Linked DNA regions of Homo sapiens. The protein of the gene in region 6 purifies or fractionates together with the protein of the main gene of each other region. This does not show direct contact. Each region holds a gene or a part of one and is shown on either strand. Other genes may lie near its edges.

What was found.
Region 1: the proteins of GINM1 (region 6) and KIAA0319L purify together in Homo sapiens (affinity purification with mass spectrometry; 3 studies listed by BioGRID and IntAct, with this or other methods). This does not show direct contact.
Region 2: the proteins of GINM1 (region 6) and CSGALNACT2 purify together in Homo sapiens (affinity purification with mass spectrometry; 3 studies listed by BioGRID and IntAct, with this or other methods). This does not show direct contact.
Region 3: the proteins of GINM1 (region 6) and HS6ST2 purify together in Homo sapiens (affinity purification with mass spectrometry; 3 studies listed by BioGRID and IntAct, with this or other methods). This does not show direct contact.
Region 4: the proteins of GINM1 (region 6) and TNFRSF10B purify together in Homo sapiens (affinity purification with mass spectrometry; 3 studies listed by BioGRID and IntAct, with this or other methods). This does not show direct contact.
Region 5: the proteins of GINM1 (region 6) and NDFIP1 purify together in Homo sapiens (affinity purification with mass spectrometry; 3 studies listed by BioGRID and IntAct, with this or other methods). This does not show direct contact.
Region 7: the proteins of GINM1 (region 6) and LRP11 purify together in Homo sapiens (affinity purification with mass spectrometry; 3 studies listed by BioGRID and IntAct, with this or other methods). This does not show direct contact.

What each region holds. Positions count from the first base shown.
Region 1 is NC_000001.11:35,438,720-35,442,799, reverse strand, and holds part of KIAA0319L (dyslexia-associated protein KIAA0319-like protein), read left to right. Parts: intron 1-463; coding exon 464-554; intron 555-1,661; coding exon 1,662-1,753; intron 1,754-4,080.
Region 2 is NC_000010.11:43,151,835-43,155,914, forward strand, and holds part of CSGALNACT2 (chondroitin sulfate N-acetylgalactosaminyltransferase 2), read left to right. Parts: intron 1-3,062; 5' UTR 3,063-3,315; coding exon 3,316-3,976; intron 3,977-4,080. UniProt on the Homo sapiens protein: Transfers 1,4-N-acetylgalactosamine (GalNAc) from UDP-GalNAc to the non-reducing end of glucuronic acid (GlcUA). Required for addition of the first GalNAc to the core tetrasaccharide linker and for elongation of chondroitin chains.
Region 3 is NC_000023.11:132,948,493-132,952,572, forward strand, and holds part of HS6ST2 (heparan-sulfate 6-O-sulfotransferase 2), read right to left. Parts: intron 1-4,080. UniProt on the Homo sapiens protein: 6-O-sulfation enzyme which catalyzes the transfer of sulfate from 3'-phosphoadenosine 5'-phosphosulfate (PAPS) to position 6 of the N-sulfoglucosamine residue (GlcNS) of heparan sulfate.
Region 4 is NC_000008.11:23,023,812-23,027,891, reverse strand, and holds part of TNFRSF10B (tumor necrosis factor receptor superfamily member 10B isoform 1 precursor), read left to right. Parts: intron 1-138; coding exon 139-170; intron 171-603; coding exon 604-759; intron 760-3,631; coding exon 3,632-3,704; intron 3,705-4,080. UniProt on the Homo sapiens protein: Receptor for the cytotoxic ligand TNFSF10/TRAIL. The adapter molecule FADD recruits caspase-8 to the activated receptor.
Region 5 is NC_000005.10:142,129,171-142,133,250, forward strand, and holds part of NDFIP1 (NEDD4 family-interacting protein 1), read left to right. Parts: intron 1-2,637; coding exon 2,638-2,725; intron 2,726-3,041; coding exon 3,042-3,172; intron 3,173-4,080. UniProt on the Homo sapiens protein: Activates HECT domain-containing E3 ubiquitin-protein ligases, including NEDD4 and ITCH, and consequently modulates the stability of their targets. As a result, controls many cellular processes.
Region 6 is NC_000006.12:149,569,017-149,573,096, forward strand, and holds part of GINM1 (glycoprotein integral membrane protein 1 precursor), read left to right. Parts: intron 1-3,268; coding exon 3,269-3,328; intron 3,329-3,490; coding exon 3,491-3,587; intron 3,588-4,080.
Region 7 is NC_000006.12:149,857,465-149,861,544, forward strand, and holds part of LRP11 (low-density lipoprotein receptor-related protein 11 isoform 1 precursor), read right to left. Parts: intron 1-4,080.

The DNA.
Region 1 (4,080 bases), on a different chromosome or scaffold from region 6:
AGAACTTTGTGTATTTTCTGTTTGCAGAGGACTTTTACTTCCTTCCTCCACACTTGCTCAAGGTTAGAGGAAAGCCCTGAAGCAGTCGTGTAAGAAGAACCAGGCTTAACTCAGATCCAATGCCAGTTACAGCCTAAATCCCACCAGCTGAAAAGCCTCCTGTCTTTTGGAGTGCCTCCGTGCTGTAGCCTAATGGAAGCCCTCGTTTCCCTCTTAAAGCTCTTTTCAGCCTGCACCACTGCTGCAGGGTCTCAGGGCTTGCCAGGAGCAGGGACTGGAAAGCAGGGACATTTCAAAAGGTTTAAAGCTTCAGCTGCCCTTAACTCCAAGGTCTTACCTTCCTGGGGAGCCTGAGGCATTCTTGTCTCCAGAGTGAAGCCACACCTGCCCAAGCTGGGAGCAGCCCAGACCTCCCTCCCAGCCTCTCCCTCCACAGCCCTCACCATTTTGATTTTCTTGGCAGAGTGGAGCGTGTTATATGTTATCATTGCTACCTTTGTCATTGTTGTTGCCTTGGGAATCCTGTCTTGGACTGTGATCTGTTGTTGTAAGAGGTAAGATGGATTTTCCTTTGAAATTCATTCGGGCTTCTTGTCATACATTCGTTCCTCAGAGAGGTATTTGGCACCTTCCACGTGGAAGGACTGGGCTGGGTCCTTAGTCAGCATTAGAGAGTTCTGACCCACCTAAGGCATGCACGGGCAGCTTTGCTCACCCTGAGACTCTCCTGAGGGCAGAGGCACACTCCTTCAGTGAGTGGCAGCCACTGCAGTGATTTGGAACCTGGGAAACATGGCTGGGCGGGAGCAGGGCAAGGTGGGGGAGTGAGCGTGAGGGCCAGGGGTACAGACCCGGATCACATCTGTAAGGTGTGTTTTCTTTAATGCACCACACTGTAGCCTCACCAGCATAGCCCGCGAGTTTTTAATTCTGCCTTCTTTCTAGTTGGGATTCATGAGTGTGCATGTTTCCACACATGCACTTTAGGCTAGCCAGGCTCAGGCGTCCTGTGTTTTTTCATTTGAGTCTTCCTATTGAGTCTTCTAAGATGGAATGGTTACATTTATTTTATGTTTTCATTATTAATAATATTATTTCTGTGTATACTGTGTGCCATAATATTTTTATAGGTAATATCATTTTTAAGACACATAACCTTTTCCCATTTTACAGATAAAAAAACTTAGGCTCAGGAAAGGTACATCACTGTCTGAGGACCAGTTGATAGTGACAGAGCTGAGATTCAACTTTCAGTATAACCTCTTATAAAACTTAGAACTAAAGGAATTTTTAAAAATTCCCACCAGTCTAAGACAACCACCATTACCAACTTTGTTAGTGTAATGCCTGTCTCCTCCCACACCCTTCAAGCAGAGGATTTTGTTTTCTTTACGTTTTTAACCAATCTGTCCTTCATTGCCCCTGTGGGATGGTGAGTCCGTGCCAAGGTGGTCATAGCTCCCTTGCCCTTCTCCAGAATTGCTGAGGAACATTTGAGGAACAAATCACAGTTGCCACCTTTCCTGGCTGAGAAGTGAGGAGAGGACACCCCTCTCAGTAGGTGCCCCACCAAAATAGGGCCCTGCATGCACATCTGGCTCTCATCCTCATCCTCCCAGAGAACCTCTTTCCTGAGCAGGGGTGGGGGTTGTGTTTTTTAGGCAAAAAGGAAAACCCAAGAGGAAAAGCAAGTACAAGATCCTGGATGCCACGGATCAGGAAAGCCTGGAGCTGAAGCCAACCTCCCGAGCAGGTAGGGGCCCTGGGTGCCAGAGCTTCTAGGTCTGTGCACTCTCTCTGTGGAAGGCTGCTGTCACTAGCCCCTCCTGAGTGTGTCACTAACAGCCCACTGTGCTTGCAAAGCATTTTGTTCCCTTTTGCCTGATGAAGACTGAGGGTCAGATTTGCCCTGAGCTGCACTGGACAAAATGCCTCCAGGACCCACTTCGCGTGCTACTTCCGCTTGGCGGGGGTGCTGGGCCTGTTGTTTTCCTTTGCCTGGGCATTCTCCTCATGTTTCCCACCTGGAGTTCCGCTTTTCCAACTGCCCCAGGTAGTCAGGGTCAGGGACCTTGGACTTGTCTCTTACTGCTGACCAGTCTGTGCTTTATGGGCAGAGATGAGACCCAGGCCCGTGTCTGCCAGCTGACCACCTTTCAGCCAGCCTTGTTCTCCTGTCTTCCTATCTTTATCATTTGGCAAGTCCTCAGCTTCTGTCAGTGTCTTAGGGCAGATAGGAGGGCATTTCCTTGCACAAACAGTAAGATGACTTTGAGTGATGGCACTGGGAGATCAGGGCAGGTAGTAGGCCTTCCTTCCTCCGCTGGGCTGGGTCACCTGGCGAGGGTTTCACTCATCATGGATGCCATGGGACAGGTATCATTGGTTTATGAGAGCTAGACTCTATAAAGCGATTCCTAAACACTCTGCAAGTAGAACTATTTTTATATAAAGCATTTATTAAACACTTTTCATGCTTAAAGCTTTGTGTTAGGGAGAGGCTATGGGGGTATAGGGAGTCATCAGACACAGGCTGTGCTCTCAGTCTAGTGAGGGAGAAAAGACACACAGTAGCAGAAGAGAACAGGCTCACAGCAGTCTGGACTCTGCACCAAGCAGCTCGATCCACCAACACTGTCAAGGTGGAGACTGGAGGTGGTGGGGCTTGAAATGAGCCCAGGAAACCAGAGCAGTGAGGGCGGGCGGGGCATTTCACCCAGGAATATTGAGAATGAGGGCCTGGAGGTGAAATGTGCAAAACCCACCCCTCACACTGCAGCCAAGGTTTTTATCATGTTACTCTGATCATGTTTTTCACCCCCTGACATTCTTCAATGACTTACTATTTCTAGCACAAAAAGCTAGAACTTTTGGTCTGGTAGATGTGGCCTTTGTGAGCTTACATCAGTTTGCTTTTCTGGAATCTTTCTCTTTGCTGATCTCCCTCTTTTCTAAACAAGTTCTTCTGGTTCATCCAGTAATCTCTTTCTTTTTTAAAAATGTGGCGACAAGGTCTTGCTCTGTCACCCAGGCTGGAGTGCAGTGGTATAGTCATAGCTCACTGCAACCTCCAGCTCCTGAGCTCAAGTGGTCCTCCTGCTTCAGCCTCCCAAAGCAGCTGGGACTACAGGCATGCACCACCATACCCAGCCCTAGAAAGCTCTTTCTTATCCCTCCCTTAACCTCCTCAAGTTGTGCTCACCTTTCTCTCACATGCCTGGGTCGGCATTTCTCTCGCTGTCTCATGATTAGTTATGTTTGCCTGTCTCCCCACCCATCAGTGAAATCCCTGAGGGCAGGGGCTGTCTCATTCATCTGTGGATATGGAGCGGGACCACTATGTGCCAGGCCCTGTGCCAGACACTGCTTATATTGTGGTGAATCAAACGGACAGACTTCACTCTTGTGTAGCTTATGTCAGACAGACATTAAGCAAACTCACAAATACATAAAATATGCTCATAAAAGGCCTTTATGAAGAAAAACACTTAAGCTGAGACCTGGATAAGTGGGAGCTAGCCAGATAAAGCTGCAGGAAATAGCATTCCAGGCAAAGGAACAAAACTGGTGCAGACCCAGCTGCTAGAAGGAGCAGAGAGCATTTGAGGAGGTAGAAGAAGGTGACATGATGGACAGGTTCACCTTCCCACAGAGTAAGGGGTGAGTGACCCAAGGCTCAATGGATGAGCAGGGTCCCTGCTGAGGACTTCTCTTGAGTACAATGGGGAGCCACTGATAGCTTTTTAAGGGGATGAATGGTGGGATTTGGTTTACATTTATTATTATTTGAGACAGAGTCTCACTCTTATCACCCAGGCAGGAGTGCAGTGGTGCGATCAAGGCCCACTGCAGTCTTGACCTCCTGGGCTCAGGTGATCCTTCCACCTCAGCTTCCTAAGTAGCTGGGACCACAGGCATGCGCCACCATCCCCAGGTTTTTTTGTTGTTGTTGTTGTTGTTTTGTATTTTTGGTAGAGACGGGGTTTCATCATGTTGCCTAGGCTGTTCTTGAACTCCTGGGCTTAAGTGATCTGCCTGCCTTGGTCTCCTAAAGTGCTGGGATTATAGGTGTGAGCCATG
Region 2 (4,080 bases), on a different chromosome or scaffold from region 6:
GGGGATCACTGTCCTTTGTTACCTGATGTTAAATATCTTGAAAATCATTGTTTCATATTTTGGGTTTGTTGGCAGGAAAAGTTGTTTGTTTGTTTTTGGTTGTTTCAAGACAACCAAAGAGAGCAAATCTGAGAGTAAATCTGGCCCGTTACTTCATCTTGGTCGTAAAAGGAAGTCAGTTTTTTAAGCAGTTTTAGAGAGTTAGAATTGATGGCTTGTAAGGTTTCTTTCAATCCTGAGATCTTTGGCTTCATATTACATACCTTTAACAGCTTATTTTCCCATCTTCACATTATCCTTTTCTCTCCTCAAAACACTTAACTATCTGCATTTGTGCTTAGAAGGCTTGTTGGGATTAACTCTGGGCTGTGAATGAACCGTATTCATGATACAAACACATTTCATAGAATGATGACAATCAAGATGTAACAACAGAAAAATGTTTTCTATAATATTCTTAATATATTTATATGATAGAACAGCTATAATGTAATCTTCTAGATTATGGCCAAAGAGTTTCTTTCGGGAACTAGGCAAATAAGATTTTAATTGAAATCTTTCATTTTTAATAACCACAGAATTATGCAACTTTTACATTCTGAAGTAATTACAGTATCCTTTCATTTTATTGGAAAATATTCAACTGTAATATTAAGTAGGATATCTCAAAACCTGTATTTCCCTTAAAGGGAAGAGGAAGAAAAATGACCTTAGCTTTTTAACACTGCCACTGATAATTTCCATTCTATTTTATTGAAAAGTAAACCTTCAGTAGTGACCTATTGTCTGAGTTATAGCTCATAGTCTAAAATACATTGTGTATATAAAGAAAACATATGAGGTACCATATTAATAAAAGATAGTGGTAGTTCTGTTACCCAGTTTCACTTCAGTTTTGAGTATAACATGCTTAAGTATGTATATCTTTATTAATTAAAGTATGTATATCTTTATTATACAAGATTATGTCTCCACATTTTCAGTTCTTTTTCCTAATAAATGGGCTAGTAATAGTTAAAACAGATACCGCTAGGTTTATCTTTTAAATAATGAAATTCAAGTGTTTTCTTATGCTAGGGATTATGGTTTTGAGGTATGGTTAAGTCCTGGAAATAATACTAGTTATTTTTTGATTAGATGGTATTTCTTAAAGCCAACTATTTTTTTTCTGTTTTTTTCTACATCACTCAAACAAGATTTATAATCAGTAAGAGAGATGCTGTAATAGTAAAAGACTCCCTTGGCCAGGCGCGGTGGCTAATCCCAGCACTTTGGGAGGCCGAGGCGGGCGGATCACGAGGTCAGGAGATGAGACCACGATGAAACCCCGTCTCTACTAAAAATACAAAAATTAGCCGGGCGTGGTGGCCGGCGCTTGTAGTCCCAGCTACTCGGGAGGCTGAGGCAGGAGAATAGCGCGAACCCAGGAGGCGGAGCTTGCAGCGAGCCAAGATCGCGCCACTGCACTGCAGCCTGGGCGACAGAGCAAGACTCTGTCTCAAAAAAAAAAGGACTCCCTTGTAGTGAGTTAAATTTTTCAAGATACTTGGTTATCATTTCGTTTACTAAAATAATAAATGACTAAGGAGAGTTAAGACCATTATTTGTGGTATATTGGCCATAAGAAGTTTTCTTCTGTCCTATGTTTTATACAGACATGTTACCAAAAAAAAAAAAATACGCATTGCAGCATTTGCCACAGAAAGCATCCAGGTTTTTCTACTCATTAAAAAAGTGGCTAGGACTGATAACCTGTAGTGATCTTCCAGGTTTTGCTGCAGTGAGAAAACCATTACTGTTAAAAACCTGCTGTCATATCACATTATCCTTCTCAACAAGCACTTTGTTACAATGGAAGTTCTCTTTGCAGTGGAGTCCTCCTTGCCTCCCTTGTCCTAAGTTAAACCTCTATTTTTAGAGTTAAGAATCATTAAAGACATGGAAGAGTTCGCACAACTGGTTGTGGCATGAACGATAGCATGTAATTTTATAAATGTATAAATGGTTTTTGAATTTTTTTCTCTGCTGATAAGGATGATTAAATTCTTCATGTTTTTTCTTTATATAGACTCCAAACCTTTCTAGACTTGTAGGAAATCTGTTGATGCATAATACAGTGGAAAGAATTATGTGATCTAATGTGCAAATAATCTACTGGAGGACATTGGATATAAAAATGTTTTCTTAATGTGTTTTTCAGATGTCTGTGAGCTTTTGAAGTTGTTCTTTCCCCCACTTAATTTTAAGTCTCCTAGATTGGCTGAGCTGAGCAGTAGAAATTAATGAGGTAGAATGCTTGAGTTGAATAAACTGGGAGAAAATCTCTCTCTCCAGTAAACCGTTATTACTGTAACAGAAACAGTTTCTATAAACTCAGTTCCCAAATGGTCATAAGCTTTAGTTGGGAAATGGTGCGGTAATTGAAATACTATGTTAATAAAGAGTTATAGGCAATATAATTTTCAAATAATTAGAGAACAGTAGAATATATGTAATACAGACTATGCTGACGTAATTTTAATGTTTCTTTGATTCAAGTTATAGCTGTGTAGACATAATAGTTAAAAGTATTATACATAGTTTATTGTTTTTTAAGGTATTTTAAAAAATTCTCCCAGGCCAGGCTCAGTGGCTCACACCTGTAATCCCAGCACTTTGGGAGGCCAAGACAGGCAGATCACCTGAGGTCAGGACCAGCCTGGCTAACATGGTGAAACCTTGTCTCTACTAAAAATACAAAAATTAGCTGGGAGTGGTAGGCAGATGCCTGTAGTCCCAGCTACTCAGGAAGCTGAGATGGAAGGATCACTTGAACCCAGGAGGCAGAGGTTGCAGTAAGCCAAGATTGTGCCACTGCATTCCAGCCTGGGTGACGGAGTGAGACTCCATCTCAAAAAAAAAAAAAAATTCTCCTAGTATTTACTGAATATTCTAAATTATATTAGTACCTCTCATAGTTCTCTGCATGTAGTAGTCACGTAGCTAAGTTTACTGAAGCCACAAACAAATTTGATATCCTTAAGGGAACAAAATTCTGATTGATTCTGATCTGTGTCTTTCAGAAAAATCACTACCAATATAATGGATTTTATATATCAGATTGCTTTATTCTGGATATCATGGTAACAATACAGAAAGTATACATAATTTCCCATTTCTGCAAGTAGTCATGACTGCTGAAGAAAGAAAAACTTAAAGCTACGGCAGAATTATTTTATGGAAATTCTGATTTTGTTTTTAATTTTTGATAACTTTTTACTAAAGGTATGAACACACAAAGAGCTTATTTTGTTAGGCAAATACACATTAATAAGAATGCCTAGAAGAGGACTGATTCTTCACACCCGGACCCACTGGTTGCTGTTGGGCCTTGCTTTGCTCTGCAGTTTGGTATTATTTATGTACCTCCTGGAATGTGCCCCCCAGACTGATGGAAATGCATCTCTTCCTGGTGTTGTTGGGGAAAATTATGGTAAAGAGTATTATCAAGCCCTCCTACAGGAACAAGAAGAACATTATCAGACCAGGGCAACCAGTCTGAAACGCCAAATTGCCCAACTAAAACAAGAATTACAAGAAATGAGTGAGAAGATGCGGTCACTGCAAGAAAGAAGGAATGTAGGGGCTAATGGCATAGGCTATCAGAGCAACAAAGAGCAAGCACCTAGTGATCTTTTAGAGTTTCTTCATTCCCAAATTGACAAAGCTGAAGTTAGCATAGGGGCCAAACTACCCAGTGAGTATGGGGTCATTCCCTTTGAAAGTTTTACCTTAATGAAAGTATTTCAATTGGAAATGGGTCTCACTCGCCATCCTGAAGAAAAGCCAGTTAGAAAAGACAAACGAGATGAATTGGTGGAAGTTATTGAAGCGGGCTTGGAGGTCATTAATAATCCTGATGAAGATGATGAACAAGAAGATGAGGAGGGTCCCCTTGGAGAGAAACTGATATTTAATGAAAATGACTTCGTAGAAGGTAATGTGAAAAATATGTTGGTCAATATTATGTTAGTAAGACAAATGCTAGTATTGTATGCTGGTATTGTATTGTAGTATTGTACTGTAGACAAATGCTAGTAT
Region 3 (4,080 bases), on a different chromosome or scaffold from region 6:
TATAATATTCCAGAAAAAGCACAGTGGAATGTGCAAGACAGATTTATTTAGTGTAATGCTCTGAAATGTGTCAAAGTCTTCAGCACAGTTTTTAGAGGCAAAATGGCAGAAATAACAAATGGGATGCAATAAGACCAACTGAATAATCTGCAAAGTTCAATACCTAGTAAATGAGAAAAGCTCTTTTGCCAATAAATATTTTACTAAAGTTTAGACAAATATTTATCTAAGCTTACAAGGACACTGTTTTAGAGGACATACGCCATTAAGTGGATTATTCATTATCCTTTAATGGAAAGGGGGAAATTCCCATCCATACATCTCTTTTTAAACTCAGTGACTAAATACCTCATTTCATGTGTCACAGAATGTTAATATTAGCTTTTCAACTGTGAGGGACATTCTTTACACTGTCAAAACAACTTGTACCTACGGTGTAGTTTCAGTGGAGTTTCAACAATAAGATTATGCACCTCACTATATGTGCATAGAGTGGTCCCTCAGATATTGGAATAGTTGGACAATGACATTTCTAATCAACTTTATTTATGGTTAACTGGGGGTAATACTCTTATGCAGTGAAACTTCTCTAGGGGGCGCTGCTTAGCAAAGTGAACTCTCCTTTTCTGCTGGACGAGAGCAACACATACACTAACTGATCTAAGCTCCCAGTTATGGATGTTTAGAACTATAGCCCTTTACCAACCCCAAGATTTTAACTCTTCCAGCCAGACCATCAGCCCTGGTGTCAACTCACTAAGAAAGAAGCTCATGGAGATCCAAAGTCCAGACTATCTCGGATGGCTCTGGCTGAGCAGAATAAGCTTTATATTTCCAACTGTGTACCACTATTAACTTCCTGTTCCATATAATTTATAAATTAAAATTTATAATTTATAAATGAGAAAGAAACAATAGCAATTCACTCAAGTAGCTCTATACCATACTGGTATAAAAAGAGTTCCATGCATTGTGTGGGAATATGATAAAAGTCAGTTATCGAAAATCAGCAGCCAATGTCTGACTCATCACCTCTGCCTTTCAGGGTGAGGGTTTATTAGGGCTGAGGCTACTCTCCTCATTAAAGGCTCCCAGGATATCAAGAGGCTAATGAAATAACCAGCCAGGAACCAAAAAAGTAGACCTGTGTGCAATTAATCACAGCTTAGTAAAACATTATTTTAAAAATTGTTAATGCTTATTGTTATTATATAAGTAATGTAGACTCAAAGAAAACTCAAAACCTTCAGAAAAGCAGAATAAGAAAATAAATCACTAATAGATCTATTTATATTCTATTATTTTTTTCTTCCAGTCTCTGTCTTTTATGCTTAGATTTGGGAGGGGTAGGAGATGATTTCTCTCGCTCGCTCGCTCGCTATCTTTTTTTCTTTAATATAATTGTAGTCGTACTGGGTCCATAATTTTCTATCTCTTTTTCTCTTAGCATTAAATCACTAGCAATTTTCCATGCTCTATCAAAGGACATTTAAGTGGTTTTGTAATAATCTTTCAAGTGGATGTACTGAGATTTCTTGAACCATTCTTCTCCATGTGGATGTTCAGATTGTTTCCAATTTGTTGCACTTATGATAACTCCAGTTAGTCTCCTAGTATGTGTTCTCATAGCATCCTGTACTTTTCCCCCATGGCACTTCATATAATTTTAAGTAATTGATAATTTGTTTTCTGTCTATCTTTCCCACTCCTACGAAGGCAGGGACCACATCTACCTGGTTCTTCCCGGTAACCCCAGCACATAGCACAGGGATACCAGATACTCAATAAATATTTGCTGAATCAATAAATAAATGAGTGAATGAATGAAAGCATGTATAAAAGTATGTTTTTCTGCAAAATCCCAGAAAAGAAATTATGGGTCATAGAAATAAATATTTTTATATTCTGTGTTTACACTATTTATTTCCAAAAAGATCATTCAAGTTACATTCCCACTGACAATGTATGAGAATTTTGATATTTACCATGCCCTTGTCAGCACTGTCTACTTTTTTTGTTTGGTGGTGATATATGTTGGGTTTTGCTTTGTTTGTTTGTTTGTTTTAATCAGGGTTAGAGAGGCAAAAAAAGTATTCTATGTTTAAATGTGCATTTCTTTAGTACCAGTGAAATAAAACAGTTTTTCCATGTCTGCAAACTAGTTGGGGGTCCTATGTTGTAAATTGTCTGGTCATGTCCTTTGATTCTCTAATCAGCTCGTGAGAGTTCTTTGTACAGTAAAGATTTCAACTTTGTGTCTGTTGTAATTGTGCATATTATTACCAGTTTGAAACCTTTTCGTTTTGGCTTTTTTTTGACAGATAAGCATATCTTATTCTTATGTAATCATAACTATTGATCTTTTTTCCTTTATTCAAACATCCTTTTCCTTGGCTAAGAGTCCCATATGTGAATTGCAGCTATCACTTAAATAACAACGCCAATTGTGAATTCAGATTAACTGGGTCCACAGATTCCCACATATAATGTACGATGGAGCCCTAACCTGCCCCAGAGCCCCAGTTGTCACCTCCTTATAAGTCCTGTCCACTAGAAATCTAGGCAACAGGAACCAGTCATGACTTCTTAGTACTCTCCAGCCCGAACCAGATCCCCTTCTCAACCTCTCTGTTTTGGTGGCTGGTACCACCTACATTCCAGACTAGATATCAGGGAGATAGCTTTACCTAGACTCCGACCTTTATTTACTTTCATGGTGTTTTTGCACTCTTTCCATCCAAGAGCTTCTCATACTTACTGGGGTTCCTCATTGCCATTCAAGTCCTCCACAGTGGAGCCTAACCCCATCTACTTCCCTAACCATTATTACTCCAAGCATGAACCTTTCGGGTCTGGCCAGACCTGCCTAGGTGAGGTTGCTGGACCTCAAAAGGTCATGAGGACTCCGTGCCCACCCACAATGCCTCCTTTCTTCTTAATACAACTCTCCTACTCCCAGAGGCCTTCTCAAAAGGATGTCTCCTTTTTCTGGCCTGTTCCTCATACTTTAGAAAGGAAAGGGCCCTGGAAAGCATGTCATTTAAATCTCCAATTTTATAGATAAGACACTGAGACCAAGGGAAGGAAAAGGGCCTGTCCAAAATCTAAATTTCCTCTCCCAGCACCTGTCTACATGACATAGTCCTGCACTTCACATGCTAATCTTTATGGACTTGAGGCTGAAGATGGTTATCTTGGCTTTTTTGGTTTCTTCTTGGCTCTAATCTCCCCACAACTGCTAGCACCATGCCAGAGACATAATAGTTACTCCATCTGCTTTGCCGATTAGACCCAAACTACAACATAACAGATGGACTTTTGTCTATTTTTTGTATATTCTGGTAAATGTATGACATTTTAAAGACATTATTGATTTTCAAATTGTTTTCAAACAAAATCCATTTTTTAATTAAATATCTAAAGTACTAAATTGTTCTGTTCTACCATAAGCTCTGTGAGACAGAGAATGATGTCTCTTCCCTGGAATATAATGAACAGTTTCACAAAATCTTGCTTAATGAATGACAGAAAAAAACGGATGGCTATTCTTTTAATGTCATTACATACTACCTCAGTTGATGACTGATATCCATGAAAGACAAGCTCTAGCATTTTAATTGCCCCATAGCACTGATCTAAAATTATTATTAAGTGATGTTAATTCTGAATAGCCTTTTGTACTACCTGAGAACTTACAGCTTTGTAAGGACTCCAACACCATGTTCGACATCCATGCAAAGATGCTAATTAATACTACTGGAATTCTACAGATATTGTAATGGTAGATTTCTCCCCCTCTTCTATGAAATAGCTAAGATGGTACCACAGCTCTCAAAGACAGCTGAAGAAATGTATCCTCAGCTAAGTAAAACTGAGCCCAACAGCTTAGAGCCTGATGAACCACACGACCAGTACTGACCACTGGCTGTAACAGTCCATTCTGCTTAATGCCTCAGCCTATATCACAAGCCTGTTGTGTCATTTTGCCTCACTGCAAAATCAAGGAGAAGAAAGAGGGAAAGCGTGGGCTTGTGAGGCATGATCAGGTACACACACTCTATAGTTACAGCTCTTTCAAAA
Region 4 (4,080 bases), on a different chromosome or scaffold from region 6:
GCCCCATTCTGTCCCCAGCCCCAGGGCTCCTTGTCCAGTGTCCCAGCCCCCAGCCCAGCCCTGCGCCCCACTGTCCTCTGGGAGGGGGGTGCTTCATGGGCCCCTCCCTTCCTGCTAAGGAGACTGCTTCTTTTTTAGGTGGTGGTGGGGACCCTGAGCGTGTGGACAGAGTGAGTTGATTTCTCCAGGAGCTGGGGGCTCAGGGGTTCAGGAACTGCTTCCTGGGACAGCAGAACCTGGGTGGGTGGGTCCCCATTGTCCTCATGGCTGCCCTGACTCTCTGAAGTGGCCTGGGTGCTCTGGGCTGACTGTGGGGGACACATGGCCATTTTGAGCACCACATAGGCTGGTGAGCCCTGCTGCAGCCCAGGTGACATCCTCACCCCACAGCCTGCACCCTAGGGATGGGGTGTCTGCCTGAGCACAGCACTGGGGGCCTGGCCCCAGCAGCGGGTCCTGGATGTGCTGAGTCTGGGCTGCCTGCGGTGACCTCACTGAGAGGGGGTGGGGATGTCAGGTGCAGCTGCATACTGAGGACCCTGCAGCGAGCCCTAGGTGTGGACTCCTGAGTCGGCTTTTTGCCTTCCCAATGTCTTTTTCCAGAGCTCACAACGACCTGGGGCTGAGGACAATGTCCTCAATGAGATCGTGAGTATCTTGCAGCCCACCCAGGTCCCTGAGCAGGAAATGGAAGTCCAGGAGCCAGCAGAGCCAACAGGTGTCAACATGTTGTCCCCCGGGGAGTCAGAGCATCTGCTGGTGAGTGGGGGACAGATCATTTTGTTTCCTGGCATGCTGCTCACCTGGGATTTCGTAGACAGTGGGAGAGGGCAGTGCCTTAGCTCTCCTGGCCCAGGGGAAATGGAACCTGAAGGAGCCAGGGGACTGCAGGGGATGGAGCAGCTGCACTGAGGTGGTGACCGTGCCAGTCTGCAGGACATCTGCTTCTTACTCCCTGTCCTGTCCTTGCTGTGTCCCCCGAGCCTGGAGCTCCACAGGCATAGAGTGGGGGTCACAGGGTTCATTGATGAGTGAATAAGGCTGCACAGTCTCCATCGTATGCTCCTAACAGAAGTCAGTGAGCCCTTGCTTGTAACAGCAGGAGTTTTAAATTTACTCTGAAATTGTTATTACATTGAACATATTTCAAAGTTCGTAGGGCAGCTTCCAAAAAGTAGGATTCCAAGTCGATGCACAAAGGGCTTTTGTATTGGACACACGCACACAATCAGTTCATATCAATCCATCAGTTTTGATGTGATATTGAGTAGGCAGGAAATCTGTATATACATTTATTGTTCATTGCTCGTAAGCACTGAAAGTCCTTCCCTCGAACATAAGATGAGACTATCCAGTTTCCTGCAGTGTTTTATTTTTAATGATTTGATTTTTAACATACAGCAATATAATCTAAACAGAATTGAATTTTCGATTCAATATAAGCTGAGAAACTCCCTGAATTATTCTGAGTCTCTGTTTCCTTCTTCCAAGCCCATTTAGCAACCAATTCTTCCTTTTTCCCTTGCCTTTGCCCTTTTGCCACCTCCTTTGCTACATGTCAAATGTTTACTTTTTTCTCTCTTCCTCTTCACTCTTTTTTAAAAAAACAAACAAACAAAAAAAAACTAGATCTTATCCTTGAAAATGTCAAATGTTTATATGGGCAGAGATCTCTTCCACCTAGACTGTTTCTGTTTCTTCCTTGCATCTGTACCACTTTCTTTTTAAATAAAGAGAAGAGATTTTAAAAGGAAACAAATGAACAATGCCAATACTTCCTCCATGCTTATTAATGACTTTGAAGATTTTTTTTTTTGAGACAGGATCTTGCTCTATCACCTGGGCTGGAGTGCAGTGGCACCATCTTGGCTCATTGCAACCCCTGCCTCCTGGGCTCATGTCATCCTCTCACCTCAGCTTCCTGAGTAGCTGGAACTATAGGCATGTGCCACCGTGCCCAGCTAAGTTTTGTATTTTTTGTAGAGACGAGGTTTGGTCATGTTGCCTAGGCTGGTCTCGAACTCCTGAACTCAGGCAATCCACCCTCCTTGGCCTCCCAAAATGCTGGGATTACAAGCATGAGCCACCATGCCTGGCCTGATCATTTTTTGAAAGCAGGTCACCCATAGCCACACATCCACCAGAGTATGAAAAAACTTGATCATACCAAGAGCCTTCTTTACTCTTTCCCAGCCTTTTGGCCCTTCTTATTTCAGGTAACTACAGTGGATAATTTCTTGTGATTCTTTGCTAAACTCTTTATGCATATACCATCTAGGTACATAAATGCATATGTATTTATGTGGTATTGACATGAAAAGGATTATATCATGTACAACACCAAACAAAACTGTCTAATATGTTTTAATATCTTAGACAGCAAATATGTTTTCAAAATTATTTTTACACATCTTATAATTTAGAATTAGATAAAATTTAGAATTATAAGATTTTCTCTAGTACCCCTCCCGCCCACATAGTCACTAGACTTTACAAATATTAATTTAAATTAATACATGGTTCTAGGAATGATTGACATCCTTTCAACATTCAATTTTATTATCAAAGAAGATAATATTTCAAGTCAAGTGTTCTATTATGACTCAATCGAGATTTGGGAGTTTATTTCAGATAAATTTTTCCTATTCCTCATCAAAGCTGTTTCTTTGCATTTTGGGTCTTCTTGTAAGTCCATTTTCTAATTTATTATGTCTGCTGCTACTTTTCTTTTCTTTCTTTCTGAGATGGGTCTCACTCTTGTCACCCAGGCTGGAGTGCAGTGGTACAATCATGGCTCACTGCAGCCTTGACCTTCTAAGGCCAAGTAAGCTCGGACTTACCGGCTTCTGAGTAGCTCGGACGACAGTTTTGTGCCACTACACCCAGCTTATTTTATTTTATTTTATTTTATTTTTAGAAACAGGATCTCGCTATGTCGCCTAGGCTGGTCTCAAACTCCTGGGCTCAAGCAGTCTTCACACCTCAGCCTCCCAGAGTGCTGGGATTACAGGTGTGAGCCACCATGCCTGGCCTCTGCTATGTGGTTTAACATTCATCAGGGCTAGGTGCAGTGGCTCACGCCTGTAATCCCAGCACTTTGGGAGGCCGAGGCGGATGGATCATCTGAGGTAAGGAGTTTGAGACTAGCCTGGCCAACATGGTGAAACCCTGTCTCTACTAAAAATATAAAAATACGATAAAATAATTAGCTGGGCATGGTGGTGCACACCTGTAATCCCAGCTACTTGGGAGGCTGAGGCAGGAGAATCTCTTGAACCCAGAGGTGGAGGTTGCAGTGAGCCAAGATCGCACTATTGCACTCCAGCCTGGGAGACGGAGTGAGACTCTGTCTCGAAAAAAAAAAAAATCATCAAGACATATTCACTTTTGAGTATTACAAATTAAACCTTGGGGTTTTAAAAATATACACTCCTAATCTAAAATATTGACTGCTGTATCGGCCTCCTTCCGAGAGTCTTGCCCCTTTGTCTCCTGTCTTGTTGCCAGACCTTTCAGAACAATGTTCTGGAAGTGACGTGCTGCAGGTCTCAGAGCTGGCTGGTGGTCGGGGTCAGTACTGGACTGTAGGACTCCTGGCTCTGACCAGGACATTCCCCACTATGTGTTACAGGAACCGGCAGAAGCTGAAAGGTCTCAGAGGAGGAGGCTGCTGGTTCCAGCAAATGAAGGTGATCCCACTGAGAGTAAGTGTTTTGCTCCTGGAGATGCAGCAGGAATGGAGGGAATAGGGACAGGGTCCTAACTGCTGTCCCCAGAGGTCAGAGGGCTCTTCCAGAGTATTCCATGCTGGAAGCCGTGGGTCCTGTGCTATAGACCATCTGGACCCTAAACTGTCTTCTCCCATCTCTTCTCCCCACTCTACCTCATCCTCTCTGCACCCTATCATTGACCCTAATGACTCTGTCCGTCCCCTCATCCTCTCTCCTCCTTTGTTCAGGGCCTGATGTAGCCCCCGCCTGCCCCTGAGGACCTCCTGAGGGGCTGGCCTGTCCTGCACAGCACCACTAACCCCAGTGGGCTAAGGAGCTCTTGACCTGTGCCTCAGCCCAATTTGCAGAG
Region 5 (4,080 bases), on a different chromosome or scaffold from region 6:
GTATTTGCCTTTGTTCTTGCTGCTGACTCTTCTGCTTCTTTTGGTGACCTTCCCACAGCACAAGAGTGGTTAGGTGTGAGGAGGCTAAGAATACCTTGCCAAGAGCTTCAAATAATGTTAAAACCAGTATTTTAGGTGAACCATGGTCCCAAGAACTCTATTTAAGTAATTCCTAGTTCGGTGTCCCAGGAGCATTTGGCTTTACTGCACCTATTTTGGCCACATGTCTTTGTTTAAAAGGAAAAATTATCTTAGGTTATAATACAGCTATTTTGGGAGTACCTTAAGTTTAACATTAGATTACTAGGATTCGAAAAAATGTACCCAGATGGTAGATGCTGATGAGAATTTGACACAAGAATTCATTTGAAATTGAAGCTTTTGTAGTATTAGTCAGAAAAATTTATTGACATCTGGTTTTGAACAGCATAGTGAGTGGAGATTGAGATGATCAGTTAAAATTTAATGGATTGTGGCCGGGCACAATGGCTCACGCCTGTAATTCCAGCACTTTGGGAGGCTAAGGCAGGCATATCACCTGAGGTCGGGAGTTTGAGACGAGCCTGGCCCACGTCTACTAAAAATACAAAAATTAGCCAGGTCTGGTGGCATACGCCTGTAGTCCCAGCTACTTGGAGTCTGAGGCAACAGAATTGCTTGAACCTGGGAGGTGGAGGTTTCAGTGAGCCGAGATCCCACCATTGCTCTCCAGCCTGGGCAACAAAAGCGAAACTACATCTCAAAAAAAAAAAAAAAAAAAGAAAGAAAGAAAATTTAATGGATTATGGAGCTCTACTTCACATTAGTACACCTCGGTCTCTCTGTTTTTCTGTCTCAATTCAAGATAGAGTTCTTTGTAGCGGTATGGTTTAGAGGTGGTATGTATTTTACAAGTATGTCAGTTGGCTCTGTATATCCTGATGATACCGAAGCCAGGACCAGACCCCTACGTCAGTTATATCACTAAATATTCTGTTATTAATTTTCAGATTGGCTCCTAGTCCCAGCCAACTCATGTTTTAAATTAATATAGTTCATTGTCACACTGGACTGGAAAAACCAAATGAAATGTCTTTATTCTATGAAGATGACTTGTGTAGACTATACAGACTAGCAACAGCAGACACTTTCAGTGCGAGTTATTTTAAAAAATTGAAGATTTGACTGGCAGAAAAGTTGCTGAGATAGGGAAAAGGGATATCTATTGACAGATATATGTAGAATTAGGGAGAATTTTATGTTTTCATAAGTGTCTCAATTATTTAAGATTTAATTTGGTGTGCATGTGGAATATAATGGTAACATGGTTTGTCTGTGATTTGTCTTTTGTCTTAACAGATTATTTTTCTAACTTTAAAAAAGTATACATCACTTGAGGCCAGGAGTTTTAAACCAGTCTGGGCAACACAGGAAGACCCCATCTCTACAAAACATAAATTTTAAAAAAAGTTAGCCAGGGTCACAGTGTGCCATAATTGTGCCACTGCACTCCTGCCTGGACAACAAGAGTGAGATCCTGTCTCTCCAAAAAAAAAAAAGTATGCAAGTGATAAATATTCACTACAAAATATTTGAACATGCAGATACACAACAAAAAGGAAAAATTCCCCTGTACTCCTATTACCTAGAAATAACAGTGTTGAACTGTAAATGTCTCATTCTAGGCCTCCTTTCCATTATATGTCTGCCTTTTTAAAAAGGATTATATGATGCCTATTGTTTGGCAAGTTTAGCTTTTTTCATGTAATAATAGTACACTGTAAATATCTATTTGAGTAATGAAATTTAATTTTTTTTTTTTTAAAGACATGGTCTCTCTCATGCCCCAGGCTGGAGGGCAGTGGCACAATCTTAGCTCGCTGCAGCCACGACCTCCTGGGTTCAAGCCATCCTGCTGCCTCAGCCTCCTGAGTAGCTAGAACCACAGGTGCATGCCACCACTCCCGGGTAATTTTTGTATTTTTTGTAGAGACAGGGTTTGTTTTGCCATGTTGCCCAGGCTAGTCTTGAACTCCTAAACTCTCCTAATCTCAAGCGATCCCACCCACCTAGGCCTCCCAGAGTGCTAGGATTACAGGTGTGAGCCACCATGCCTGGCTGAAATTTAATGTATATTTTTTTTGACACAGAGTTTCACTCTGTTGCCCAGGCTGGAGTGCAGTGGCACCATCTCAGCTCACTGCAACCTCCGCCTCCCGGGTTAAAACGATTCTTGTGCCTCAGCCTCCTGAGCAGCTGGGACTATAGGAGTGTGCCACCATGCCTGGCTAATTTTTGTATTTTTAGTAGAGATTGGGTTTTGCCATGTTGGCCAGGATGGCAAAATTTAATTTTTAATGGCCGTTTAGTAGTCCTTTGTGTGATGTACTATAATTTATTTGTCTCCTATGATTGGAATTTAGGTTGTTTCTAATTTTTGCTGACACAACACTTATATGTACCCATTTTGCCTCTTTGAATATTTCCATAGAATAACTTCCTGGGAGTAGAATACTTTTCTTAAAGGATTTGTGCATTTCAAGGCTTTCAAAATACGTTGCCAAATAGCTTTCGAGAAAGGCTATTTATTTCAGTTTTTGGGTTCTTATCTTTCTAATTGGCTTTATGCTTACATTAAAATATGAAATTTTTATTTAGTTGCAGAATGAAGAAGAGTCTGGAGAACCTGAACAGGCTGCAGGTGATGCTCCTCCACCTTACAGCAGCATTTCTGCAGAGAGCGCAGGTAGGTAACAGGGCAAGGTGATCACGGAATCCTTAAAAACACTCTGTGCTTTGACATTACAGTTTAAAAAAAAAAAAGCTTCAGAAGCAGTTGGAAGAAAGGTTACAAAGCAAGTCTGGATTTTAAATAATTGAGAAGTGGATACATTTAAAAATCACCCCCAGTCTCTTACATTCATCTAAGAATGTCTTTTGGTTCAATTGTTATGTATGTACTCTTAAGGGAATGGCTGGGTTTTGTCTGCTAGAGTTAGTGGAACTCCTTTTATTTCAATTCAGCTAATCATCAAAAAATTGTGACTGTTAAAATTCTGCAGCATATTTTGACTACAAGGATGAGTCTGGGTTTCCAAAGCCCCCATCTTACAATGTAGCTACAACACTGCCCAGTTATGATGAAGCGGAGAGGACCAAGGCTGAAGCTACTATCCCTTTGGTTCCTGGGAGAGTGAGTATAATTTGCCATGTTACTTGATGGCTGCTCTGTGGGAATTAAGTTATTTTCATTATCCAATTTTGATTCGTTACTTATGATTGTATTGATTAGTGAAAGTAGAGCTAATTTTAAAAATCAGGTACATTTGCTTTTGGGATAATAAACTCATCTCTTCTTAAAAATGATGAGGTAAATTACTAGTCAGACCTGCTCATTTTTCCTTCATCTCTCCTATTACCACTACTTTTTCAAGTCTCCTGGGATGGCTGAAGTATCTTGAAGCAGAAGCACACTAATGTTTCCTTGATTCTGCACACTTAATATTTTGCTGTTGGGTGGATAGCTGCTAGGGAGGTCTAGGAAGAGAATAAATATATGCAAATTTGTAGAATTAAACTCATAAGAGGGATCTTCACATTGATTTAGATGAACTCCGTTCTTCCAGCAGTCCAGATCATGTCATTTGTGGGGACATAGTGAGTTCAGATTCCATCTAGCCTGATGTTGATTCATGGAGGTGGAGATTGGGATGCCATATAAACCAGTGGAGATTATTGGGCACTCTTGGTTCTTGATGTCAGATATGTGAGTGCTGCATTTGTCATTTTGTAAATATTCATCCAGATTGAGGCTGATGAAGGTAGGGCATTGTGGGAGAATGGAAGCAGGATAAGTCCCCAGAAATGCGGGGACCATCAGGCCTCTAGGCTCTATTCTAGCAAGTAACTGGAGTGAGTGATGAGCAAGTACAGAAGCCTAGTCTGGGCAGTGTGATGGCATAGGCCCAGATGTTCCCCTCTTGGCTTTAAGATAGTAGACAGTTTGCAGACCACACCTACTGTGAGGAGCGAAGCTCCTAAAATCATTGCTTGGTAGAAATAGTTTATGAGCCCAATCTAGGATGATCCTAAATGGCGATG
Region 6 (4,080 bases):
TATTTTTTTATTTTTTGTTTTTTATTTTTGAGAGAGAGTCTCACTCTGTCTCCCAGGCTGGAGTGCACTGGCATGATCTCGGCTCACTGCAACTTCTGCCTCCTGGGTTCAGGTTCAAGTGATTCTCCTGCCTCAGCTTCCCAAGTAGCTGGGATTACAGGCTCCCGCCACTGCGCCCAGCTAATTTTTTTATATTTTTAGTAGAGATGGGGTTTCACCATGTTGGCTAGGTTGGTCTCGAACTCCTGACCTCAAGTGATCCACCCGCCTCAGCCTTCCAAAGTGCTGGGATTACAGGTGTGAGCCACTGCGCCCGGTCACTTTTTTTTTTTTTTTTTGACGTGAAGTCTCGCTCTGTCCCCCATCCTGCACAGTGCAGTGGTGCAATCTCGGCTCACTGCAGCCTCTGCCTCCCGGGTTCCAGCGATTCTCCTGCCTCAGCCTCCCAGATAGCTGGGATTACAGGCACGTGCCACCATGCCTGGCTAATTTTTGTATTTTTAGTAGAGACGGGGTTTCACCATGTTGGCTAGCTGGTCTCAAACTCCTGACCTCAGGTGATCCACCCGCCTCAGCCTCCCAAAGTGCTAGGATTACAGGCATGAGCCACCATGCCCGACCGAAAAATAAAAGTCTTTATAGTAAATTCTTCTAATACTAAAATAACTTGGTCACCAAAGAGAGGCATTCGGAGGACACTTACTTTCTTGTATGCATAACTGTATATTTCGCTCAGACGTATTTTAAACCAGCTGTCTATTACCTTTATTCTTAGGAAGACACTTATGTCCCCAGTGGGCATCCTATGAGTAAAGGAATTAGAAGAATTGAAGATTTTTAGGGAGAAACTTTTCAGTGTCCCCAAGCACTTTTTAAGTATATGCAACCCTGGCTTACGAGCCTGAACTTCCAGTTCAATCAGAAGTTCTCAAGAACAATAAATATGACCTGGCTCTGAACTCCTGGCCAGGGGGCAGTAAGGAGTGTGATTCCCTTTTGCAGTGAAATCATTCAGAAAGACCAGAAAATAATTTTGTTGTACTTGGTTCTCTGGAAAATATAGTGTGCTTGTGTCTGTTAATTGTCTTTTTCAAACTCTGTAATTTTACTAGGTAGGTTTTATATATATATATATATATATATATATATATATATATATATATATATATATATATATATATAAAGTTCAGTAACTTGCTAACAATATAGTGTTCACTGCTAAAAGGCAGAAGCTATAAAATGGTTTCCTAGAACAACATTGGAGGCTTACTTCTGGGCTGTTAGAAGAATAATAGTTTATAATTAATACATTCTCTAGTTTGCAAAGGAGATCCATATGACTTGAATTTGGACACAAAACAATGTAGCTATCAATCTCATAGCTCATTGAATGTGGATTTGTTTTAGATGCACTATTGGTTCTAACCGTCTAGATCAAGGTGAGCCAGGAAAAAGCTGGCTAGTTCTGAGGAATTTCTAGTTAGAAAGCTTCCTAGGCTCCTAGTTGGGAAGTGAACCAAAGTCACCCTAAATGTATGATGTTGGTCTTGTGTGGTATGAATCCTCTTTCACAAATTATTCCTGGAATCAGCTCGACCTCATGAAATTTCATCAGTCTTATTCTCTCATTTGTGGGAAATTATATATAAAGTATTTAGGATACTCAGGGCCAGCAGATATACTTGTATATTCTTTTTGATGTTTATGAACAGTTTTCCTATTTTCTAAGTTAATACAACCTCAAAGAAAAAGTATTTGAGAGTATTGTTTTTATTCCAGAATAACAATGTCTATTTGTGAATAAACTTAGGAAAGAATTTGATTTAGAAATGATAGATTGTAGTTCCTGTGGTCAGTGGTAAATACTTCTTAAAATAGTGCTTGCTTCTGTATATAAAGCATGTCATCTTCAATATTTGGGTATCCTGCTTTTGATAATACCTTGAGAGGCAATAAAATTGGAGCATTACAGATGCTTGTATAAGAAACACACTCAAGAAAGGGTCAGTGCAACTTTGGTCAGGTGCGGTGGCTCACGCCTGTAATCCCAGCACTTTGGGAGGCCGAGGTGGGTGGATCACGAGGTCGGGAGTTCGCAACCAGCCTGACCAACGTGGTGAAACCCCCGTCTCTACTAAAAATACAAAAATTAGCCAGGTGTGGTGATGCATGCCTGTAATCCCAGCTACTCAGAAGGCTGAGGCAGGAGAATCACTTGAACCCGGGAGGCGGAGATTGCAGTGAGCCAAGATCGCCACTGCACTCTAGCCTGGGCAACAGAGCGAGACTCCCTCTCAAAAAAAAAAAAAAAAAAGTCATTGCAACTTTATTTATAAAAGGAAAAAAGTTGGAAACAACTCAGATGTCCGTGGGTAATAGAATAAATAAGTAAATTGGTAGTCAGAGATGGACTACTGTGATTACAGCTATGTGCATCAACAGTATCAACTACAGTTACGGAAGAATACATGTGTACTGTTATCCCACTTACATAAAGCTCAGAAACAGATAAAACTAAGCAACATATTGTTTAGAGAGAGAGACACAGGTAGTAAAACTATAAAGAAAAGCAAGAAATGATTCAAATGGAATTGGGTATAGGATTCCTTCTGGGGGGATAGAGGGCAATCATGCAGAGCCTGCCAAGGTAGGGGTAATATTTTATATTTTATCCTCGGTGGTACTTACAGGAGTGCTCATCTTTTAAACTCTATATTTGCATATTATATACTCATGTGATACTTTTCACAAGTAAATAGAAAAAGTATATATTATAAAAAATTAGACCGGGCGCGGTGACTCACGCCTGTAATTCCAGCACTTTGGGAGGCCGAGGAGGGCGGATCACGAGATCAGGAGTTCAAGACCATCCTGGCCAACATGGTGAAACCCCATCTCTACTAAAAATACAAACATTAGCTGGGTGTGGTGGTGCATGCCTGTAATCCCAGCTACTCGGGAGGCTGAGGCAGGAGAATTGCTTGAACCCAGGAGATGGAGATTGCAGTGAGCCCAGATTGCGGTACTGCACTCCAGCCTGGCGACAAAGTGAGACTCTCAAAAAATAAATAAATAAATAAATAAATAATTGGAATTGTAAATAAGGGTGGAAAAATGGCTATAAAATGGAAAAGATGATCTTTTAAACTCTCTTAATGCTGTTATAAGTGATTGTACAATAGATACAATTGGAGGGAAAAGAGAAAGCCACGTTGTTCTCAATCTGTGAGATGCACACCTTCCAATTTACACAATACTTGTTTTACAGGACGGCATCAGAATTAATGTAACTACACTGAAAGATGATGGGGACATATCTAAACAGCAGGTTTGTCTCCTTTTCTGGTTTTAATATATAATTTAGCTAAGTGCTATGCAGCTTATTTGATTTTTTAACTTGCACGTCTCATTTAGTTAATCTTTTTTGACTTGAAGAGTTTGCTATTGTTTATAAATATTGGAATTAATGTATATGCTGCTTTATTTTAAGGTTGTTCTTAACATAACCTATGAGAGTGGACAGGTGTATGTAAATGACTTACCTGTAAATAGTGGTGTAACCCGAATAAGCTGTCAGACTTTGATAGGTGAGTATTACTAAATTATTTCCATAATTGCTCTGTTTTTTGTGTGTTTGTTGTTGTTGTTGTTGTTGTTTGTTTTTTGAGACAGTCTTGCTCTGTCACCCAGGCTGGAGTGCAATGGTGCGATCTCAGCTCACTGCAACCTCTACCTCCTAGGTTCAAATGATTCTCATTCCTCAGCCTCCAAAGTAGCTGGGACTGCAGGCATGTGCCACCATACCCGGCTAACTTTTGTAATTTTAGTAGAGACAGGGTTTCGCCATGTTGGCCAGGCTGGTCTTGATTGAACTCCTAGCCTCAAACCATCTACCCTCCTCTGCCTCTCAAAGTGCTGGGATTACAGATGTGAGCCCCTGTGCCTGGCCTGTTCTGTTTTTAATAATACTAAATTAGCAAAACAATTTTTGGATGTTATATATTTCCATTTTAAAGTAAAAATAGGCTGGGTGCAGTGGCTCACGCCTGTAATCCCAACACTTTGGGAGGCCGAGGTGGG
Region 7 (4,080 bases), 290 kb from region 6:
ACTTCACTCCTGCCTGCATAACAAAGTGAGTCCCTGTGTCAAAAAAAAAAAAAAAAGTAAAAAGAAACAAAGATGGTAACAGCCCTTTCCCCAAATAAGCCCCTTTCTTGCCTGAGGACTGGACTGCCTTTGCAAAACTAACAAATAAGCCACAAGATTAGAAATTATGGCTTAGGCATCACTATTATAAAACCTAAGTTCAGTGCTTGAGATATTTTATAGACCCTGTCCTCGATGGTTGGCAGCACCCCGTTGGCAGTACCTAGGTTGATAAACTGGCTCATCTGGTCTTGTGTTTTATCCGCACAACCAGTTCCTTGTGAATTAAACTCTTTCTCTATTGCAATTCCCCTGTCTTGATAAATCAGCTCTGTGTAGGCAGTGGGCAAGGAGAACCCATTGGGCGGTTACAATTTCCTTGTACCAGGTACCAGGCCAGGTGAAGTTATAGAAAGAACTTAACTTTCACAACGAATCTCTGAGGTAGGTATTATCATCTGCATAATACTGATGCAGAAACTAGGCTCAGAGGGCTAAGTTACATCACACAGGCGATAAATTTGTCAGATCAGATACTTCTTTTTAATTATTTTTTTATTATTATACTTAAAAGTTCTAAGGTACATGTGCACAACGTGCAGGTTTGTTACATAGGTATACATGTGCCATGTTGGTTTGCTGCCCCCTTCAACTCGTCATTTACATTAGGTATTTGTCCTAATGCTATCCCTTCCCTTGACCCCCACCCCGACAGGCCCTGGTGTGTGATGTTCTCCTCCGTGTCCGTGTGTTCTCATTGTTCAACTCCCACTTATGAGTGAGAATATGCGGTGTTTGGTTTTCTGTCCTTGTGATAGTTTGCTGAGAATGGTTTCCAGCTTCACCCATGTCCCTGCAAAGGACATGAACTCATCCTTTTTTTATGGCTGCACAGTAGTCCATGGAGTATATGTGCCACATTTTCTTAATCCAGTCTATTATTAATGGACATCTGGGTTGGTTCCAAGTCTTTGCTATTGTGAATAGTGCCACAATAAACATACATGTGCATGTGTCTTTATAGTAGCATGATTTATAATCCTTTGAATATATACCCAGGAATGCAGCCCAGTTATTTCTAACTCAAAGGTTCTATCCTTCCACTATACTTCGAGACAACCCTAGGTGTATTCCAGTTACAATAAATATAATTTTACATCCTGAATTTAATCCATCAACTTATTGGTATATTCCTGTTATTGATATTTCTTCATATATCTTAGCACTGCCCATGTGATAACCTAAGCTTCACAATTGCCACTTGAGTTTCCTAATCTGTACTACTGGACATTTACTTTGTTACTTTTTCACCATTATAAATAATGCCATAATAAACATGTTTTGCTCATACGTTCTCTTCAGCATAGATGATTTTCCTAAAAAATATTCCAGAAGTATGAATATTTTAATGGTTTCTGCCACATATTTTCCAATTACTTTCCAAGAGGGAAGTACCAATTTACACCATCAGTGAGCTAGAAGTGTATATAAAGTTTCCCATATGCATGTCAATATGAGTAAAACACTTTTTTGCTCATATGTTCTCTTCAGCATGGTTCCTTTTCCTAAAAAATATTCCAGAAGTATGAAATGAATATTTTAATGGTCTCTGCCACATATTTCCCAACTGGTTTCCAAGAGGGAAGTAGCAATTTACACCATCGGTGAGCACAGAAGTGTATATGAAGTCTCCCATATGCATGCCAATATGAGTAAACCTATTTTTACCAAGTTAATAAATGAAAATTGGCCTTATTTACATTTCTTTGATTCTAAGGTCGAACATTTTTCCATGTTTATCCACCATACCTCCTCTTCTGGGAAGTGTCTGCTCATGTCCTTTGCCCATTTATTTTTATTTTTCTTGCTGACTCATATATATATATATATATATTTTTTTTTTTTTTTTTTTGACCGAGTCTTGCTCTGTCGCCCAGGCTGGAGTCCAGTGTTGCAATCTCAGCTTACTGTAACCTCCGACTCCAGGGTTTAAGCTATTCTCATGTCTCAGCCTCCCCAGTAGCTAGGACTACAGGCGTGTGTCAACAAACCAGGCTAATTTTTCTATTTTTAGTACAGATGGAGTTTCACCATGTTTGTCAGGCTGGTTTCTAACTCCTGGCCTCCAGCAATCCACCTGCGTTGGCCTCCCAAAGCGCTGGGATTACAGGTGTGAGCCACTGTGCCTGGCCCATAAACTCTACGAATAAATAATGTCACATTTTTCCCAGACTCTTGTTTGCAATTCCTTTTGTTTCTTGATATGAAGTTTTTTATAAATGTGCATATAATCTATCCCCTTTCTTTGTGACCTCTTTAATTGATTTGAAACCTGTCTTCCTTCCAGATATGGAAGTTTACTTCCTTTAAGTTTTTTTATGTATGGAGTAATCTATGGCTTAATTTAAAAAAAATTTAATTCTTTAATCCATCTGGAATTTGTGTATGGTCAGAGTTGTAGGTCTAAATGTACTTTCCCTGACACTGCCAACCAGTTATCTTACTATTATTTATTAAATATAATTGTTTATAACACAAAAGGGAGAAGATAAGAATGTGAGAAAGTAAGGCCCTTGGAGAGGGAGAGTGGTCAAGCATCTGCAGAGGGATTAACCTTGAATGGGAAGGTCAACTCTTTTGTTTGCACTTGGCGGAGACAGGGAAAGGCTGGGGGTGGCAGCAGGTGGGTCTGCAGAGAGGAGAGCAGACCTCTGCCTAATAGCTTTGATTTTCCCTGACACACAAGGCAAGGGGCCCACTTCCCAAATTCTTCCCCGAGATACTGGACTTCAGGCTGAATATCCAGCAAAAACCACATAAAGGTTATCGTCCTTGAGTCCTTGGAGGTTATATTCCCTGCTCTTCTGGAATCCTAGCAGCTCTAGCTTCTACCTCTCCTCCCTCCCTCCCTCCCTCCTGCTGTTCTTCACTTTTTATCATGACATCCAGTCCCCCAACCCTCTAGTCATGGGCATGACCCAACCAGGTTCCTAGAACAGTATCATGTACATGCGTGCCACCTTCCTAACTCACAAAGCATGTCCCCCCTTGAACCTCACGACAGCCTGGGATGGAGGACAAGCAGACACCAAGTCCTGGGGGCATGAGCAGGGACTTGTTTGTGGAGACGCCAGGCCCCAGAACTTCAAGCACCCTCCTCTGTTCTACAGATTCTAGCAGGCAGGCTCAGTCACTACAAGACACCTCTCTCCAGCATCTCTCACTCATTCCTGCATCCTCCCGCCTTCCCTACCTCTACCCTCGCAGTCCCAGCCTAGTGATCCCTTTCTCAGCTTCTGCTGGTGCTGCTGGAGAAAGCATAGGAGTTCAGGCTCCACAACCCCATGCTGTGTGACCCTTGGGCAGGTTACTTTCGCTTGCCAAGCCTTGTATACACTAGGGATTATAACAGAACCTAGGCCTTTGTGTTGTTGTGAGGACAGAGTGAGTTCATGCGTGCAAAGGGCTGAGGACAGCACCTAACACCAAAGTCAACAAATGTGGGCATGAAAACAGGGCTGGTGTGTCCTGCTGTAAGTTCGTGCTATCCCATCACCATTTCTTCATGGTGCTTTCATCCACCTCAGATGGATCCAGTCACAGCTCCTCTCCAAGGGCTCTTCTAAACCATTTTCACATGCTCACAACCCAAAAACGAACAATTCAAGAAGGAAAAACTTAGTCTCTGAAGCATAAACAACTTCAACCTGTCAAGCATCTGAGCAGGGGACACACAGGACACTGGGGAACAATTTTTGACCTCCACGCAGAGAGAACAAATGAGCCTCTACAGGAACCTGAGCCGCACCTTCCGCGTTTCCATGTTGCTGGGACCTCAGGAAGTCTGAGCACAGCAGTGTTCTCCCAGAAATGAGGACCAGCACCGCGCTCGCCTATTTTCATCCCAAACATCTACAAAACAATTCCTAGACAAACTCCCCTGGGGAAAGGAAGGGCAACGAAGCAAGCAAGAGGAAAAACAACCCAGAAACTTCTCATAGTAACCTGAAGTTTTTGTTTCTGTTTCTGAGGCAGTGTCTC